Linked DNA regions of Homo sapiens. The protein of the gene in region 1 interacts with the protein of each later gene in a pairwise test. Each region holds a gene or a part of one and is shown on either strand. Other genes may lie near its edges.

Region 1 (9,433 bases):
AAGAGTACAAAGGTAAATAAGAAAAAAAAAAGAGGAACATTGGGCATTTGGTGCTAAGAGCTCAGACTTAAATATAAATTCTTAACTATGAATCCTTAAATTAGTCTTTAAAATCATGGCAAAAAAAAAAAAAAAACCAAAAAAAACCAAAAAACTCCATTCCAGTGGAAAGTGCTTTAGATTTACAGATCTGCTTGGCACTCAACTATTCCCTGAACTGTCTTGTGACTTTGAGCAAGTAACCTAAATTTAATGAACTTCTATTTGCTCATCTAGAAACCAAGGGATATAGTGCTCAGATTGTCAAATTTATTCAGTATAGGATAATACACAATTTCTAGTTACGGTCTCTAGTGGCTTTTTAGTGACATCAAAGTCCATAAAGCTACTAAAATTGTGTAGAAATATCACAATATAATCAATCAGTTTTTTTCAAGCATAACCCATTATAAAGAAATATATGAATAAACAATCTTACATCAGAAATCAAAGAAGAAAAATCACGAGATAATCTGAATAACTGGTCAGTAGGTAAAATCTGTTCTAAGTGATCCTAAGTAAACTAGTTATCTCTCCTCCTTCTGCCATTGAATTTAGTAGAATTTTTTCTTATGTTTTGATGTGTGTGTGTGTGTGTGTTTGTGAATAAATGTGTGCTTGTATTTGTTTTGAGGGAGTTGGTAAATTAACCCATTGGCATATTTACATATTTCTAGTTATGTTTACAAATTTAAATAGGTTGCCTAAGATCCATACCCTGGTGTCTTTCTTGTAATGGAGCTTAAGTACGCTCTACTAAGCTACAAGAAAAACATCCTATGCTTTGACTGTGATTGGAACTTTGCAAGCTAGTAGACATGCCTTTACAAGCAATAAAATGAAGCTGTCAGCCATTGCAAATGGACCAAAATAGAGGCCACACGACTAAAGCACCCCTGCACCAGGCAGTCTCTGATGTATTTTATTCCAGTTTCAATCTATTAATCAGAGGAGTTGGGAGAGCAATAATTTAAACACTACAATAATCAATTCCATAACACATTAATAGAAGCTACAGTTAAACTTTTCCACACCACTGACTGCATTGGAACCTTGACAGGAGCCCTAGGGCCATGCCTAATTTGCATTAAATTTACATAGAATTATAAATCAAGAATACATGAACACAGCCCTAATGTTTGTTAGTGCTTAGATCTTTCCTGATAGATACATTGAAACTGCTGGTGGTTGGGCTTCACTTGCAATAAAATTGTGCAGCTGATCAGCTTTGTTCTCATTCTGCAATTATGGCGAAAGAAACCCAATTGAGCAACAGTTTGGGGGTATGTGAGTGCCATTTAAGGTTTTTATCCTGTAAAACGATGACTCAGATGTGCCCTTAGATCCCCCAATCTAGAAGCAAATTGTCCCCAATTACTTTGCAGATCTTTGTCACTGGATTTCATCACCAGTAACTTGTCATTAAGTAGAGATACAAACTACATAGAAACCTGAACAGCTGAAAAAATAAAAAGTCCTCTGGAAAATTTTATTTTTTCAGAAGAACTTTGCTATCACAAAAAAGATAATTAGTGCTAATCTTCAGGGTGAGGACAGATAAACCCAAACTTTCTTAAACTCAGCAAAGCATCTGGTACCTAACAGGGTGGAAAAGTGTACTTCATATGGCCCTAGGCATTCTGTGTGTTCTGGTATCCCTGATTTACATTGTTCCAACAGCTGTGGCTTTTGCCGTGTGTTTTCACACTCAGGGCTAGGTGAAAACATTCTCACCAATGTTACTGGCTCTCAGTAACAGGAGTACACTCTCTATATTGTTTTGGGTCCTCTCATTTTAAGTGTCTTTTTAGACAGAAAATCGATACTTAAGTCCAATAATATCTTTGGGAATATTTCTTTTCAGGAAGGATTCTGCAAATATTTTGTACATTATTATTCTGCAACTCCCACCTCTTTCTTACCACCCTTCTATCCCACACTTTCCTTACCTTGTACGATCAAGTAAACTTGGGAGGTCTTGGGCTCATGCTGTGTCTGAACTGAGCAAGTGTAGGAACCCTCATCATAGACATCCACCTTCTGGATTCGGAGGCTGTATTCCAGAGAATGGCGTTTCTCCAGCTCAACCCGTGGGTCCAGAGACCACTTGTCATGTCCAGCAAAAATGATGCCAGAACGGTTCAACCAGGCCACCTTTGAGTTCTTGTCTTCTACAACGCACCTGACAGAGCAGAGTAACAATATTAGTGCCTTAACAACAACTATTTCTGCGTTTCTTCTCTAGGTGATCAGACTCAACAAGTCTAAACAAGGAAAATAATTATATGCAGAATGAATTATTGCCATGCCATTCTTGGAGTCCTTAGAATTTTCACTATTTCATTTAAGATCTAATTACCATCCAGTGGATGGATGTCATTATATTAGACTCAGTTCAGCAATAAACAATCTGAGTATGAGTAATGAAGGCAAAGTTAAATTAGTATTGACTTCCCATTATCTTCTTCTTGTTTAGGAAAAGGCCACTCACTCAGAACTCCGTCTGTTTAAGTAATTTTGAGAATTATACAATTGATATCATAGCACTTTTACTCCATCTTGAACTGTGTTTACTCTTTTATAAGTATTTCCTATAGTATTGTGTAATGATAGATTAAAGTTATACTCCACCATTATAGGAATTAGACTAGACTTCTGAGTTTACTTCTAATCTTTACAAGTTTGGGATGCCACTTCCAGGAGTAAAAATTGTGTGAGCAGATCCAAGCATAAGGGGATAGGTGTTATGACAAGGAAATCAAAGCAAACATCATCTGGCATAAGTTTGGTTCCAGCTGCTGAAGGCAGAAGCTTGTTTGGTGGCAAGTTAGGTTGCTACCAGCATTTCTAGTCACACTAAATGCAGGCAATCTTTAACAAAGATGAAGAAGCCAATTTTGTAGTTTATAGACCAATAGATCAAAAAGGGTAAAGGAATAACGCTTAATTGAATTACTGCTTTAAAAAACTTAAAAGGGTCTCTTTCTGAAATTTGAAAGGGGCAAAGAACATGCATTAGTGAAGGAGGGGTAAATACTTTTTGGTGAGTATGGTTTTCTCCTTCAGTTCCAGCAAGAGTCTTGCAATGGAAAAATCTAGCAGAAAACAAAAACAAAAAAACCTTCTGTCTGCATCCCTGTGGCAAGATTTATGTCTGCCCCATAGGGAGATGTCCCAAACCCTGTTCACAGCTGCAAAGCCAGCTGCTCAACACTCTGGAGCAGGAGGGAATGAACAGAAAGAGCCACGAGCACCACAGCAGGACTATTAAGACACCCTGTTCCCCTGTATTTTCTAAGCCAAGTAAAATCCAGTTTTTATCTCAGGTCAAAACAACTAAACATAGACAGAAAATTGATGCATAACCCATAGGCTGTCCCACATGGAATATAAAGGCCAACTGTGTCTCTTACAAGAAAGATAACAGCTAAGTCTTTTTAAATACTCCATTTATGGTATAATACAAAGACCTCCTTATCCTATTAATTTTAAACGAATTGTATATGTTATTTAGAGGGAGATTTTTTTTTTTTTTTTTGAGACAGATCTTGTTCGGTCACCAAGACTGGGGAGCAGTGGCCTGATCATAGCTCACTGCAGCCTCAAACTACTGAGCTCAAGCAATCCTCCTGCCTCAGCCTCCTAAGTAGCTAGGATGATAGGTGCATGCCACCAGGACTAGCTAATTTAAAAAAAAAATTAGAGATGGGGTCTTGCTGTGTTGTCCAGGCTAGCCTCAAGTGATCTTCCCAACTTGGCCTCCCTAAGCACTGGGATTATAGTCATGAGCCACCATGCCTGACCCTAGAGTAAGAATTTGACTTAATAAGTTGGGTGCCAAGATACACAGGTCTTACTTTTCTTCTTTACCTATTTGTTTTCATAAACATAACTAGATTTAGGTATCATTTAACATCTCCATTTCCCAGTATGTGCTTCTCTGCCATGCATATATTATTGAGTATAATTTATGTGTTTAATAATTTAGAGGCCTTTTATCATGAGCACCAAGCTAACTTCATGAATGCTTGCTGCCTCATTCCAGACTCAGTTTTACTTTTGCTGTTCTCCTCTCTTGTGGCATCATTTCTCTGTTCTTGGTGATGTTTGCCGCATCTCTGAATTTAAAATCATTGATGAATTAATTAATAGGATGTTTGGTGTCTTACTCTAGACCATTATGAAATTGTTGAATGTAGATTTACCATGTTTTTTCTATTCTAGTAAGAAGGATAGAAATTTACCTGTGTAAATGTGTTTTAAATCTTCTATCATTTTTCCCTGTGCATGTTTCTCACCTGCACAGCGTAACACAAGAATGGTCAGATTTGCTACATTATAGATGTATTCTGAATGCCTCTTAGCACCAAATATGGCTCCAATCTCTTCACTTTAAAAGAAAAAATACCACGTAATATAGCTTACCTAAATATGGCCTGTGAATCCAATAAAAACAGCAAATTTTTACCTTATTCATTTGGATACCACCAATAACTAATCTAGGATAAAACAGGCATTTGATAAATGCCTGTCCTGTGAACTAACTGGGTCACACATGCAGATACAGGACATTTGGTAACCTATATTCCACGTCCCCATCCCAAGTCCTATAGCACCCACAAATAAATTGGACAGATTTCCTTAACAATATAAGGTAAAGTTTATAAGTCGGGTCTTTATGGTCCTTTGACATTTTAGCAAATTTCATTCATGGAAAAGTTAAAGTCATACGGATCATTATTCCAAATTATTCTTTGAGGGTGTTCAGCTCTATCTTACCTAAAGAAGTAATTGACCATTTCAGCAAAATTGCCAGATGCATAAAAGTGCATCTAATGAAACAATGTATTATGTGGAAATTTTGTTATGACAATTTACATAGCACCTTGTTTTTGATCTGGGTTTTATCCGTATTTATTTTTAAAATTCGTCTTTTACTGACAAACAAGTGAATAGTATATTAGAATACACATATACTTTTTTTTGTTTTGTTTTGTTTTTGAGATGGAGTCTCGCTCCGTCGCCCAGGCTAGAGTGCAGTGGTGCAATCTCAGCTCACTGCAAGCTCTGCCTCCCAGGTTCACGCCATTCTCCTGCCTCTGCCTCCCGAGTAGCTGGCACTACAGGCGCCTGCCACCACGCCCGCCTAATTTTTTGTATTTTTAGCAGAGACGGGGTTTCAGCGTGTTAGCCAGGATGGTCTCAATCTCCTGACCTCGTGATCCGCCCACCTCGGTCTCCCAAAGTGCTGGGATTACAGGCGTGAGCCACCGTGCCCGGCCTAGAATACACATACTTTTTCCTAACTCAGATGGTTAGCCAAACTCCAAGCACCAGAACACAATACAGTATAGTGTTTTTAAAAAGGAAACCATTTCAAGGAGAAATTTGTTTAAAATAAATATATCTCAATGGAAAAAAAATAAATAAATAAAAATAAAATAAAAAGGAAACCACTTCTCCAGATCTTTCAGGGTTCCTTTTTATGTACTCAGTAGTTGCAAAATAAATCTATTAGCTCTATAAACTGGAAAATAATCCTTCTACAATGTGACTAAAACTTTCTTAATAAAAAATGAGTAAAGGAATAATGCAATTTCAGAACTAAATATTTTCTTAATTTTAGAATCTTAATTTAAGGTGGCACCTATTTTTTTTAATCATAAAAAGTACACATGAAAAAAAATGGTAGGACCAGGCACGGTGGCGCATGCCTGTAATCCCAGCTCTTTGGGAGGCTGGAGGCAGGAAAATCACTTGAACTCAGGAGTTCAAGGCTACAGTGAGCTATGATCACATCACTGCACTCCAGCCTGGCCAGAGTGAGACCTTGTCTAAAAAAAAAAAAAAAGAAAGAGAAAGAAAAGAAAATATAGTAAACCAGAATCAGTAGTTTCAATTTGTAGAGGTCTACGTTTATTAAGAGATAATAACTAGTCATACAGTGTACTGACAGACCACCTGGCTATCTGGAAATAAGAAATGCTGATATAAATACAGACCCAGGTTCCCAGCATTCACTGAATCACCAATAAGCATCATGGGCTTGCATCTCTGAGGTCTGCTGGCTCAACTGTGCATTAGGCAGGCTTGTGGAGTAAATGAGAATTCTCGGGCCATGCCATTATAATATGATAATAATGAATTATCACCTACCTAGAATGTTGCTGCAATTTAGTTCTAAACTTTATACTTAATGATTTTGTTTCGGGGGACCTGCCCCGGAAAATCACGTAGGTTCTTTTCTATTTTCCTAAGCGTCGGCTGGCTTGAGAAATAAAAGGACAGAGTACAAAAGAGAGAAATTTTAAAGCTGGGTGTCCAGGGGAGACATCACACGTTGGTAGGATCCGTGATGCCCCACAAGCCACAAAAACCAGCAAGTTTTTATTAGGGATTTTCAAAAGGGGAGGGAATGTGTGAATAGGTGTGGGTGACAGACATCAAGTACTTAACAGAGTAATAGAATATCATAAGGCAAGTGGAGGCAGGGCGAGATCACAGGACCACAGGACCGATGTGAAATTAAAATTGCTAATGAAGTTTCGGGCACCATTGTCATTGATAACATCTTATCAGGAGACGGGGTTTTGAGATCAACCGTCTGACCAAAATTTATTAGGTGGGAATTTCCTCTTCCTAATAAGCCTGGGAGCGCTATGGGAGACTGGAGACTATCTCACCTCTGCAATCTCGACCATAAGAGACAGGTACGCCCCTGGGGGGCCAGTTCAGAGACCTACCCCCAGGTGCGCATTCTCTTTCTCAGGGACGTTCCATGCTGAGAAAAAGAATTCAGTGATATTTCTCCCATTTGCTTTTGAAAGAAGAGAAATATGGCTCTGTTCTGCCCGGCTCACCGGCGGCCAGAGTTTAAGGTTATCTCTCATATTCCCTGAACAATTGCTGTTATCCTGTTCTTTTTTCAAGGTGCCCACATTTCATATTGCTCAAACACACATGCTGTACAATTTGTGCAGTTAATGCAATTATTACAGGGTCCTGAGGTGACATACATCCTTCTCGGCTGACAGGACTAAGAGACTAAAGTAAAGACAGGCATAGGAAATCACAAGGGTATTGATTGGGGAAGTGAGAAGTGTCCATGAACTCTTCGCAATTTATGTTTAGAGATTGCAGTAAAGACAGGCATAAGAAATTACAAAAGTATTAATTTGGGGAACTAATAAATGTCCATAAAATCTTCACAATCCACGTTCTTCTGTCATGGCTTCAGCCGGTCCCTCCGTTTGGGGTCCCTGACTTCCCGCAACAATTTTATCTCTAGAATCAACCTGGGCTAAAGCAGGAAGATAAAAAGATGTATTTCAAAAACCTGTTAGTGTTATGTGTTGTTTTAATAGAATGTTGTCTTGAGGAACACATGATGTTGCAAATAATTCCCAGGTTTAGAAAGAACCGGACCCTAATGACAATGGGTGTTAGTGCCACGAGGAGAGGATCAGAGAATATCCTTCCGCTTTGGGTGGGTTTTATGGAAGGCAGCTGAGGACATGGACGTATGCTATAAAGTGCCACCTCTTCAGAAAATCTTCTCTCGTCAGTGTAACCTTCTTAAAACTTCCTTTTTATGACCTTATCATACTCCACATTGCATTAGAGTTATTTGCACTCATCTTTTCTCATAAGCTTATTAAGACAGTGACCTTCTTGTAATTCACCTCTGGAGCCCTCACTGAGCCTAAATACCATGTGCATAAATACCATGTGCATAGTAGATACTTGCTGAAATGTGGAATAAACAAGCTGAATTTAATTTAACAAATTGCATTAGGTCAATTATAAAATATTCATTAATTATCTAATAGGTACAGTAAAGATGGATAACTATTTTAATATTTCTTAAGAAATAATTAAAGTTATTAGGTATAAAGGGAAATTTAAAGAGAATTATTGAGTGTGGTATTAAAATGAAAGTAAAGGAGAGAAAAAATGTGTTCCTGTGTCCACTATGAAGAAATATCATCTCTAGGAACTAAATGATCTATATTGCATGTGAAAAACTGTGAAAAAAAAGTATAACATCCTAAATAAGTGATTAGGAGGTTGCTCACGTTAATCATGAACCCTCAAATATTAGATGGGTTACCTACTGGAACTGCAAATCTATGATTTTTAAAAAATCATCTCTTAAAAAAATTAGGAAAGGTAAGCACACAAATTTTTATCTTCCCTGTTTAGTATATTTGATTCCATAAAACTGTCACAAAAAATCAATGCACCCATACAAATCTTAAGCATTGAATTTCTTCAAACACTTTACATCAAGTCTATTATGCAGACTTATACAAACAGGTACATTGACAATTCTAGTAACATTGCACAAGAGTGGGGGTTATACTGCTTAAAAAATGAATATAACTGGAGGTAGAAAAGAAATGCTAAAATCAGTTTGTACCAACAGATTACTTAATAGCATATGTACTGACAAGATATCTATGATGTAATTGATACATATCTACCAAATATTAAGCCTGTTCAATTGCTGCTGGACACATTTCATATTTAACAAGCATTAATGGCTGTTAAAAAACATACCAACTTAGGATTCAAATTTGTCCAGACTTAGCCTTGCATAAATTTCCTTCTTTTCTCAAGAGTATAATCTGGTATTTATTCACTGATAACAAATAAATATATTTTATGTAATCCGCACCAGTTATCTATACTCATATTTATACATTGCAGAGGCTGGGAGCAGTGTAACTGGATGGGTAAGAGAAATCTATTTGTTTCTTAAGAAAGAACAGTTAGATAAGTGGTCCCAAGTGAAGGCAATCTGTGCCCCTAGATGACACTGACAATATCTGGAGACATTTTTTGGTTGTCACAACTAGGGAGGGGGTGTTGCTATTGGTTTCTAGTAGGGAGAGGCCAGGGGTGTTGCTAAACATCCTACAATGCCGTGGACAGCCCCCAATCACAAAGATGTATCTTATCCAAAATGTTGACAGGATCGAGGTTGAAATACCCAGATATAGATGTCTGTCTCTTGGTTTACACATCCAGAAGCATAGGACAAACATCTAAAGTGCAGTAGTGTGTTTTCATAGGCTTATGCTTTTTAATTTATACCTACTTAATTGTCAGCAGCAAAGTTCATGACAAAGGCACAGCAATGAGGCCTAGTGAGGCTCTGGTTGTAAGTCGATAGTTAATGATTATAAGTTAGTAGTTAATCATGCCCCTTTTGTTGTTTTACTTTAGTTTCATAATCGTAAAATGATGTAATCATTTCATAACACCCAGGATAGGTAAAGGAGAATCATTTGGAGAAAAATTGATTTTTTTTAAGAAAATTAGTCTTTGTTCATCAGAAAACTTTTTCATTGACCTTTATTATTTTTCACATTTGTGAATCTCCCTCTTTTGT
Region 2 (8,448 bases), on another chromosome or scaffold:
TTTTGATGTTGCTGCTGCTGCTGCTGTTGTTGATGTAATCTCTCTATTCTGACAATTACGTGCAAGGAGAAAAATCTCCTTAATCATACATTCCGCTTAGTCAAGGTTTGACCTATCAACAAATTGCTCCTTGGCAAAACCCAGCTGAAATTTATTAGGAGACCTAGTCCTCCCCCGTTTGGGTGTTTAGTCAATCAAGTCTTCATAATCACGTAAGCAGAATCTTTTGTTATTTCCAAACTCAATCAGAAACATCATTAATTTCAAAAAGGTATAGATGGAAGCTACACACACAGGTTTTCTATAAGTAAAGAAGGACCCTGAACTGTGGATCTTACAGGATTAAAAACTGGTTATCCAAGGGAACTACGAAAACCTGATCAACTGAAGTCTTTAATAAAGGACTAATGATGGTTGCTCTACAATGATTAATTCTATAAAAAAAAAAACTTTACATTGAGATTCTTTCAACATATCCTATCCCACGAATAACTTTACTGTTAACCGACCACTCTCAGTATAGTAACACTGATACCAACAATAGAGCCAAACCCTGTCCTCCAGGATACTAGCAAACTAACCTCATTTCTATATATCCACTTTTCTTGCAAGTCTAAACAAGAAGTATGGGAAGTGGCATAGAGGAGCTTTTTGGCTGTCTTTATGGGTTTTCATTTTGAGACACAGTCTCGCTCTGTTGCCCAGGCTGGAGTGTAATGGCACAATCTCGGCTCACTGAAAGCTTCACCGCCCGGGTTCAAGCGATTCTCCTGCCTCAGCCTCCCAAGTAGCTAGGATTACAGGCATGCGCCACCACACTCGGCTAATTTTTGTATTTTTAGTAGAGATTGGGTTTCACCATGTTGGCCAGGCTGGTATCGAACTTCTAACCTCAAGTGATCTGCCCGCCTCGGCCTCTCAAAGTGCTGGGATTACAGATGTGAGCCACCGCGCCCAGCCTGTCTTTATGGTTTAACCAAGAGATCTGCCTATTCATCCAAGTAACTCATTGTCTAGAAAAGAGATGGACATATGCATAGCAACAAACGGCTTTATCAAGTCCAAGGGCAAAACAAGGTGGGGCTATATTGACAAGCTCCCCCCAACCCCCGCTTCAGATTATTTTTAATTCATTGAGTGCCAGGTATTGTACAAAGTGCTGAGATAATACAAAGGATGAGAAAAACGGACGCAGGCCCAGAGGGAGCTCACAGACTGATGGCACCGCAGACATGCAGCACATGACACAGACACGTGCAGGCATCCCCCAATATCCAAATCGAATGGGACCGCAGTTACGGACAGTAACTTCAGATCATGAGGGATGCCATGCTATCACATCTATTTGGTTCCCGGGTTTTGGAGAAAATAGCATTAATGAATAATGAGGGGCACCAGCCCTATTTCAGAAAGATGTCTCTAAAACTGTCTAGTTCCTGGCCAGGTATGGTGGCTCATGCCTGTAATCCCAGCACTTTGGGAAGCTGAGGCGGGTGGATCACGAGGTCAGGAGTTCGAGACCAGCCTGGCCAGCATGGTGAAACCCCGTCTCTACTAAAAATACAAAAATTAGCCAGGTGGGGTGGCGCATGCCTGTAGTCCCAGCTACTTGGGAGGCTGAGGCAGAAGAATCACTTGAACCCAGGAGGCAGAGGTTGCAGTGAGCTGAGATCACTGCACTCCAGACTGGGCGACGGAGCGAGACTCCATCTCATGTTCCTGTGTTTGGGTAACAAGAATTTGGAGAGAGAGAATTCAGGTAATGAGGCAACCTGTAAATAAAGCCTGTGGTGGCCAGGCATGGTGGCTCACACTTGTAATCCCAGCACTTTGGGAGGCCGAGGCAGGCGGATCAGTTGAGGCCAGGAGTTTGAGATCAGCCTGGCCAACATGGCGAAACCCTGTCTCTAATAAAAACACAAAAATTAGCAAGGTGTGGTGGCACAAGCCTGTAATTCCAGCTACTTGGGAGGTTGAGGCAGTAGAATCTCTTGAACCCACATGGTGGAGGTTGCAGTGACCCAAGATGGTGCCACTGCACTCCAGCCTGGGCAACAGGCTAAGACTCCATCTCTCAAAAAAAAAAAAAAAAAAAGCTTGTGGTAAGGGCTCTGAAGGCCAGGAGCAGATGACTGAGGGAGATCTACTCTAGGTGACAGGAAAGGCTTCCCCAATAAAACATGGTGGAGCTGAGTGTGAACTAAAAGACGCCTACAAATTGGTTAGGCATGGAGTCTGAAAAATAGAGGGGTCGGGGGGAAAATTCTGTCAGTATTGACAAAGACCCAGTGGACAGAGGGCAGAGGACACCTTAAGCATTTGAGGAACTGAGGAAAAGTCAGTTTGCTGGCCCAAATCACATCTTGCAGCTTGAGTTAGGGGTTTTGGTCTTTATCCTAAGCTGAAGTCACTAGAAGATTTTTCAGTAGAAGAATGACCTGGTCAGATCTGTGTTTTGAAAGGATTGTTCTAGCTCCTGGGGAGAGAAGGGATCAGAGCGGGTGCAGAGGAATGTAAGAACCCTCAAGATACAGCAGTGGGGGCAGACAGCACTTTCAAAGACTATCAGAAGGAAGGAGGAGGAATTTCACCAGGTGACCAAACTCTTATCTGGTGCTACAGAGCACCAACTCAGACAGTCACTGATGTCCCCAAGAATGAGGTGGCTGTGGGTCATTAGAAATCAGTGCTGCCTGTCACAAACCTCAAAAGACTAGGAGGAAAGGAAGCATGGCAGCTAATACTGGCCTTCCACTGGAGTGTTCCTTATTCAATAAGGGGCCAAAATGGAATTCAAGGGGAAACTTATGGAGATCCCCCTTTTCCACCACAAAATAGCTGTTTGTTTAAATTCCTGCATATGTCTATAAGTCAGATGTCTGGAGATGACAGCAAGAAGTTCATATCACACTTTCACAACTCTTAGGAGTCAAGACCTTTCCTCCAAATATAGCAGTACACAAATAGGGCTTCCGACTTGAAAGGGAGTATATCTCAGCTTCTCCACTTCAATCCCTTTTTTTTTTTTTTTTTTTTTTGAGACAGGGTTTCACTCTGTTACCCAGGCTGGAGTGTAGTGGCGCAATCATGGTTCACTGCAGCCTTGACCTCCCGGGTAGCTGGGACTACTGGCACGCACCACCACGTCTAGCTAATTTTTGGCAGAGATGGGGTCTCACTATGTTGCCCAGGTTGATCTCAGACTCCTGGGCTCAAGTGATCTGCCTGCTTCAGCCTCCCAAAATGCTGGGATGACACATGTGAGCCACTGCACCCAGCCTCCACTTCAACTACTTTACCATCAGGCTAAAGAAACTGAGGTCTGGGAAGATTTACTAATATCCTCTCATCCCAATTAGTCTTCAGGTAATACATTTTTCCTAAAGCACACATATTACTTTTGGTTAAATATTTTGCGGATATCAGGTAATACAGAAAGGATTTTTCTTTTTCCTCTTACTGTATGATGAGGAAATCTACACATTCTGATTTATTTTTAACTAAGCAGATTAAATAAAATACCACAATATTTTATCAAGGTATTCTGAAGTTTAAGAATCTATATGGTAGAATCATGAAATTGCCGTAACAGAATTTTGTAAATGGCCAGGGATAATGAGACCCCATTTCTACAAAAAATAAAAAAATTAGCCAGAGGCCAGGCATGGTGGCTCACTCCTGTTAATCCCAGCCCTTTGGAGGTGGAGACAGGCAGATCTCTTGAGGCCAGGAGTTTGAGACCAGCCTGGCCAATATGGCAAAAGCCCGTCTCTATTAAAAATACAAAAATTAGCCAGGCATGGTGGCATATGCCTATGATACCAGCTACTTGGGAGGCTGAGGCATGAGAATTGCTTAGACACAGGAGGCGGAGGTTGCAGTGCGCCAAGCTTGCACCACTGCACTCCAGCCTGGGCAACAGAGCCAGACACTGTCTCAAAAAGAAAAAAAAAATTAGCCAGGTGTGGTGGTGCACACCTGCAGTCCTATCTGCTTGGGAGACTGAGGCAGGAGGATCACCTGAGCCCTGGAGTTTGAGGCTGCACTGAGCTATGACAGTGCCAGTGCACTCCAGCCTGGGTGACAGAACCAGGCTCTGTCTCTAAATACATAAGCCAAAAAACACTTGGGGACATGGAAATATTGTCTCTTTGGGTAGGGTTACATGTATGTATACAATAACACTTAAGATCTGCGCATTTTAATATATGTAAATCATACCTCAACTTAAAAAAAAGAGAGAGGGGAAGATACCAAGAGCCTCGTTTTCTTTACTCTATTGCTTGGAGTACAGGAGCCCTAGCTTCATCAGTCTTAAGAGAAGGTCTCCAACAGGAGGAGTAAGTTCTCGTGTTCTATAGCACTGCAGGATGCCTATAATACTATATAGTTTCAATTAACTAGAAGGAAGATAATGGATGTTCCCAACACAAATAAATCATAAACATTTGAGATGATGGATCTAATTACCTCGATCTAATTACTATACATGATATATATGTAAAAAATCACTATGTACCCCATAAATATGTACATTTATATCAATTTAAAAAATAAAAAGAGAAGGTATCTAGATAAGTGTTTTATACCTATCCCATCACTCCCATATTACACATGGATATTCAGAAATTGTTCTTAGCTATAGAAACTTTAAGCATATTTATGACACTATGTGTCATAAATAGATCCTTGTTTTAGAGTGTGTGAGTAAATTCATTTCAGTCTAATTCAAATTAGAATACACTAATATAACATTGTCTAAATTTCTTTAAAAATATACAAGTAAAGCCATGTTATAATCTTATTTAATTCTTAGAAAAAAGTAGTACTTTCCAGGAAATGTAAATTAATACATAGCAATAAAGTAGTCAATGACTTTATTCCTAGTGGGAATTCAAACCAAATCACAATTTATTGAAATGACTAGTTCAAAGTTTACTTTAAAACTGCTGACATATATGTAAATCTCCAGTAATGGATGAAAGGCAATTTTTATTTTGGTTTCAGGCAGGAACCATGGGGAGTTGAATTTCTGCACAGAATAGTTATTTAAAAGACTGAGTAATCTACCATTTTTGAAGACATTTAGAATTTCACAGAAGGTCACACACACACACACACACACACACACACACACAGCTAATTTTATTTACTGGGGCTGCTCTATAAGTGGCAAAACTAGAGTTTTCATGGTCTCACTGCCATGGTTTCAATCAAAAGGCTGAATGACCTCAATTCAAAGTGGCTATGAACAACAGCAATCTTGAGCTAAAAATCAATTTAAAACACCAACTTCAAAGTTTGGAAACTCCACTGATAGAAAATGAAACAGTAATAGGAGTTGTTAAAATGTACAAAACACACCTTCCTCTCCCTTCATAGTTGGATAATTTCAAGGTATATTTTCAGTTTAACCTGGTTTCTCTTCATCATTTAACATTCTATTTTCATGTGTAGTGCCCTGTACTTCCTGTTACTACATCTTGATATTCTACTGCAAATCATGACTCATCCTTAAATCACAGAGAAACTCATCAAAATCCAAAATTTCACAGCACATAGGAACTCAGTCTTTCAAGAGGGCAGCATTCTTAGAACATTACTTGAACCACAGAGGACAAAAAACACTGAACAAGTCTATGAAGAAATTATGTCAATCCATGGTTGAGCCAACACATTTATTAGATCAATAAATAGAAGCTCTATGTGATAATTTCGGTCTCGGTACTAATTATTAAAATGTGTTACATGTTAAGTGAAAAAAGTTATAAAACAGTAAGTACAGTGTGCTTTCAATTAAAAATGGTATGTGCATGTGTGGATATACATAGACACACATATGCATTTTTTTAAAAAACTGAACAATTACACATCAAAAGGTAAACAGTGGAATTATGGGAGATGTCTATTTTTTTATAGCAGTTTTCTGTATCTTTGTAAGGCAATTCACATTAATATTTTTTACAATAGGAAAAAAAACAACCAACCTTTAGAAGATACTATTCTGCTAGCATGGTCTCAAAGTGTGTTATAAGTCGATCTATACAGGCAAAGAGGAATTAAAGATAACCAGGACATAAAAAACTTTTGCCTGAAACATACAAGAAAATCTAACAAAAATGGAGTCCCCTTCCCCTCTCATCTGCGTATTTATGTACAGAACCTTAGGAAAGGGTCAGAAGACAGTCATCTGGGCTCTACAGCCAGAACAAAGCCAGAATGGACAGACAGCCCATTTCTTTTAAACTTTAATGAGACAGCTGGTACAGAGGTTCACACCTGTAACCCCAGCTACTGCGGAGGCTGAGGTGGGAGCATCACTTGAGCCCAGGAGTGCAAGGCCAGCCCTGGCAACATAAACAATTAAAAAAATAAAGTTTCATGAGGAAGTCCAGGTCTGGGAAACATGGAGATGACTGAGTCATTCCTTAGAATTGGAAGGCAACAAAACTAACGATTAGTAAGCAGCAACTCACCCTCAGTGAAAAAAGACTCTACTCCAGGAAGTCACATTCTTGGATAGTTTTCTATGAAGTGTTTTGGGTTGTCATCAGGTCATGTTTTGCAACATTTCACAGCACCATACTGGTCTTCTGAATCAGATAGATATATAAATATAATTGGGTCCCACAGAACACACAAAATCCAATATCTGACAGCTAAGAAGGGAATATTTTAATTTACATACACTGCCTGGAAGTCCTTTAAAACCAATTTCAGGAAAAGATTCAAGTTCCAAAAAGTTATTACAAATATAAATTTTAATATATGACCTCAGAGTTACATGTACTGTATATTAGCACTTTTGACTTATTTAATTTTTTATATAAGAAAAAGAGGAGGTCTTTAATAAATGTTTAGGTTAACTTCAAAACTCAAATGGAGCTGGCAAATCACTGCTCTCCCCTATCTGGACTACTGCCATTCTGGTCTCAACAGCATTGGTACCAAGTGCATGAAGATGCTATACTTGCAGAGTTTCAGAGATGGATGGCCTAATTCAGGACATAAAGGGTACACCATCACAAGGTCACCATCCGTATGTCACTCTATTATTGCATGTTACTGACCAAAAAGAGAAAGAGAAAATTCATGAATGCTATGTTACGTATGTGGCCAAAATTACAGATGATGACTTTTAAATGTCCTATTTGTTGACTGAATGCGTGTTAAAGAGCTTTCATCATCTTCATCATCATTAAAGTAAATAAGATTTTTCTCAATCCACTATAGACATTTTGGGCAAAAAAAATTCTTTCTTGTGCATTGTTGACTGGTTAGCAGCACCCCTGGCGTCTACCCTCCAGAAGCCAATGCACCCCCTTAGTTATAACAACCAAAAACATCTCCAGACATTGCCAAATGTCTCCTGGGAGGTAAAATTACTCCTAGTTGTGAACCACTAACGTAAATGAACCTATGTGTCCCAAATAATTACTTAGAAGGAGGAATTCTAAATACTCCCTTTTTTATTTAAAGGAAATGTACTCTGGAGAGAGTTTACAACCTCCATTCTTAAGGAACACTCATGCAAAATGTATGAGATCTCGTAAGTCTTTTTTCTTACCTATTATAAGTTTTGTTAGCCTACTCACAGCTTTCAATGCTACAATTTATTGAGCACCTACTCTGTGAAGGCATAGCATTAGGGACATCCTGTACTCATGTCCACTGACTCATACCCCGGTCGGGCTGTTTGGGCTGTTTTTAGGACAACTTTGCCACCGTAAAAGAACTGCCAACACCTTAAAAGCAACATGTCTTTGTCAATAAAGGGGCCCCATCATTCCAATCAGGTTCCTTTTGACCCTTTTTAGTAACGCCACACATTTCTACGCAACATTTAAATTAAAAAAAAAAAAAAAAAAAAACACTTTTAGAGGGCAGAAGGCCTTTGCTATATTTGGCATAGAAAGGCCATCACTTTTCAAACTCAGGGGGGTTTCTAGGCAGGATCATTACTGGAAACTCTAAGAACACTTATGGACAGTCTCCTTAACTGCCTGACCCATGTGCCCTCCTAACACAATTTGTAATTTTATCATCCTCATAAATTGAAACTCCTAACTGACCTTTTCCAAATAAATGGGTGCCATGGCGAGAGAGAAAGAAAAAGAGATCAGAGGGTATTTTGTAAGGCTCACAAATCGATTTCGGCTCATGAATAGATGCCTGGAACATGCTCCACACCCCCCCCACCCCCAAAGACAAGCACAGATGGAGAAGATGGGTGTGTGTGAGCTGCTTATCTCCCCCCACCTCTCAACACACATACACACGCGGGAAAGAAAAACCTGCAAATCTGAAATCCAAAATGGCCAAAGTGACTTCAAAGTTTTCAAGACATGTCCTGAAAAGGCTCGTTGGGCGGCTGCACCCCTAAGTAAATAAAGCCATAACTTGTCTCCTTCCCCAGCGCCGGGCTCCCAGGCTGACAGTGGCTGCACA

What was found. Proteins that work in one complex are often made in the same cells at the same time.
Region 2: the proteins of LSAMP (region 1) and ELK3 interact in binary tests that used the Homo sapiens proteins (3 or more experiments, as listed by UniProt).

What each region holds. Positions count from the first base shown.
Region 1 is NC_000003.12:116,084,336-116,093,768, forward strand, and holds part of LSAMP (limbic system-associated membrane protein isoform 1 preproprotein), read right to left. Parts: intron 2,222-9,433; coding exon 1,989-2,221; intron 1-1,988.
Region 2 is NC_000012.12:96,196,171-96,204,618, reverse strand, and holds part of ELK3 (ETS domain-containing protein Elk-3), read right to left. Parts: intron 6,594-8,448; exon of another isoform or gene 6,477-6,593; intron 1-6,476. UniProt on the Homo sapiens protein: May be a negative regulator of transcription, but can activate transcription when coexpressed with Ras, Src or Mos. Forms a ternary complex with the serum response factor and the ETS and SRF motifs of the Fos serum response element.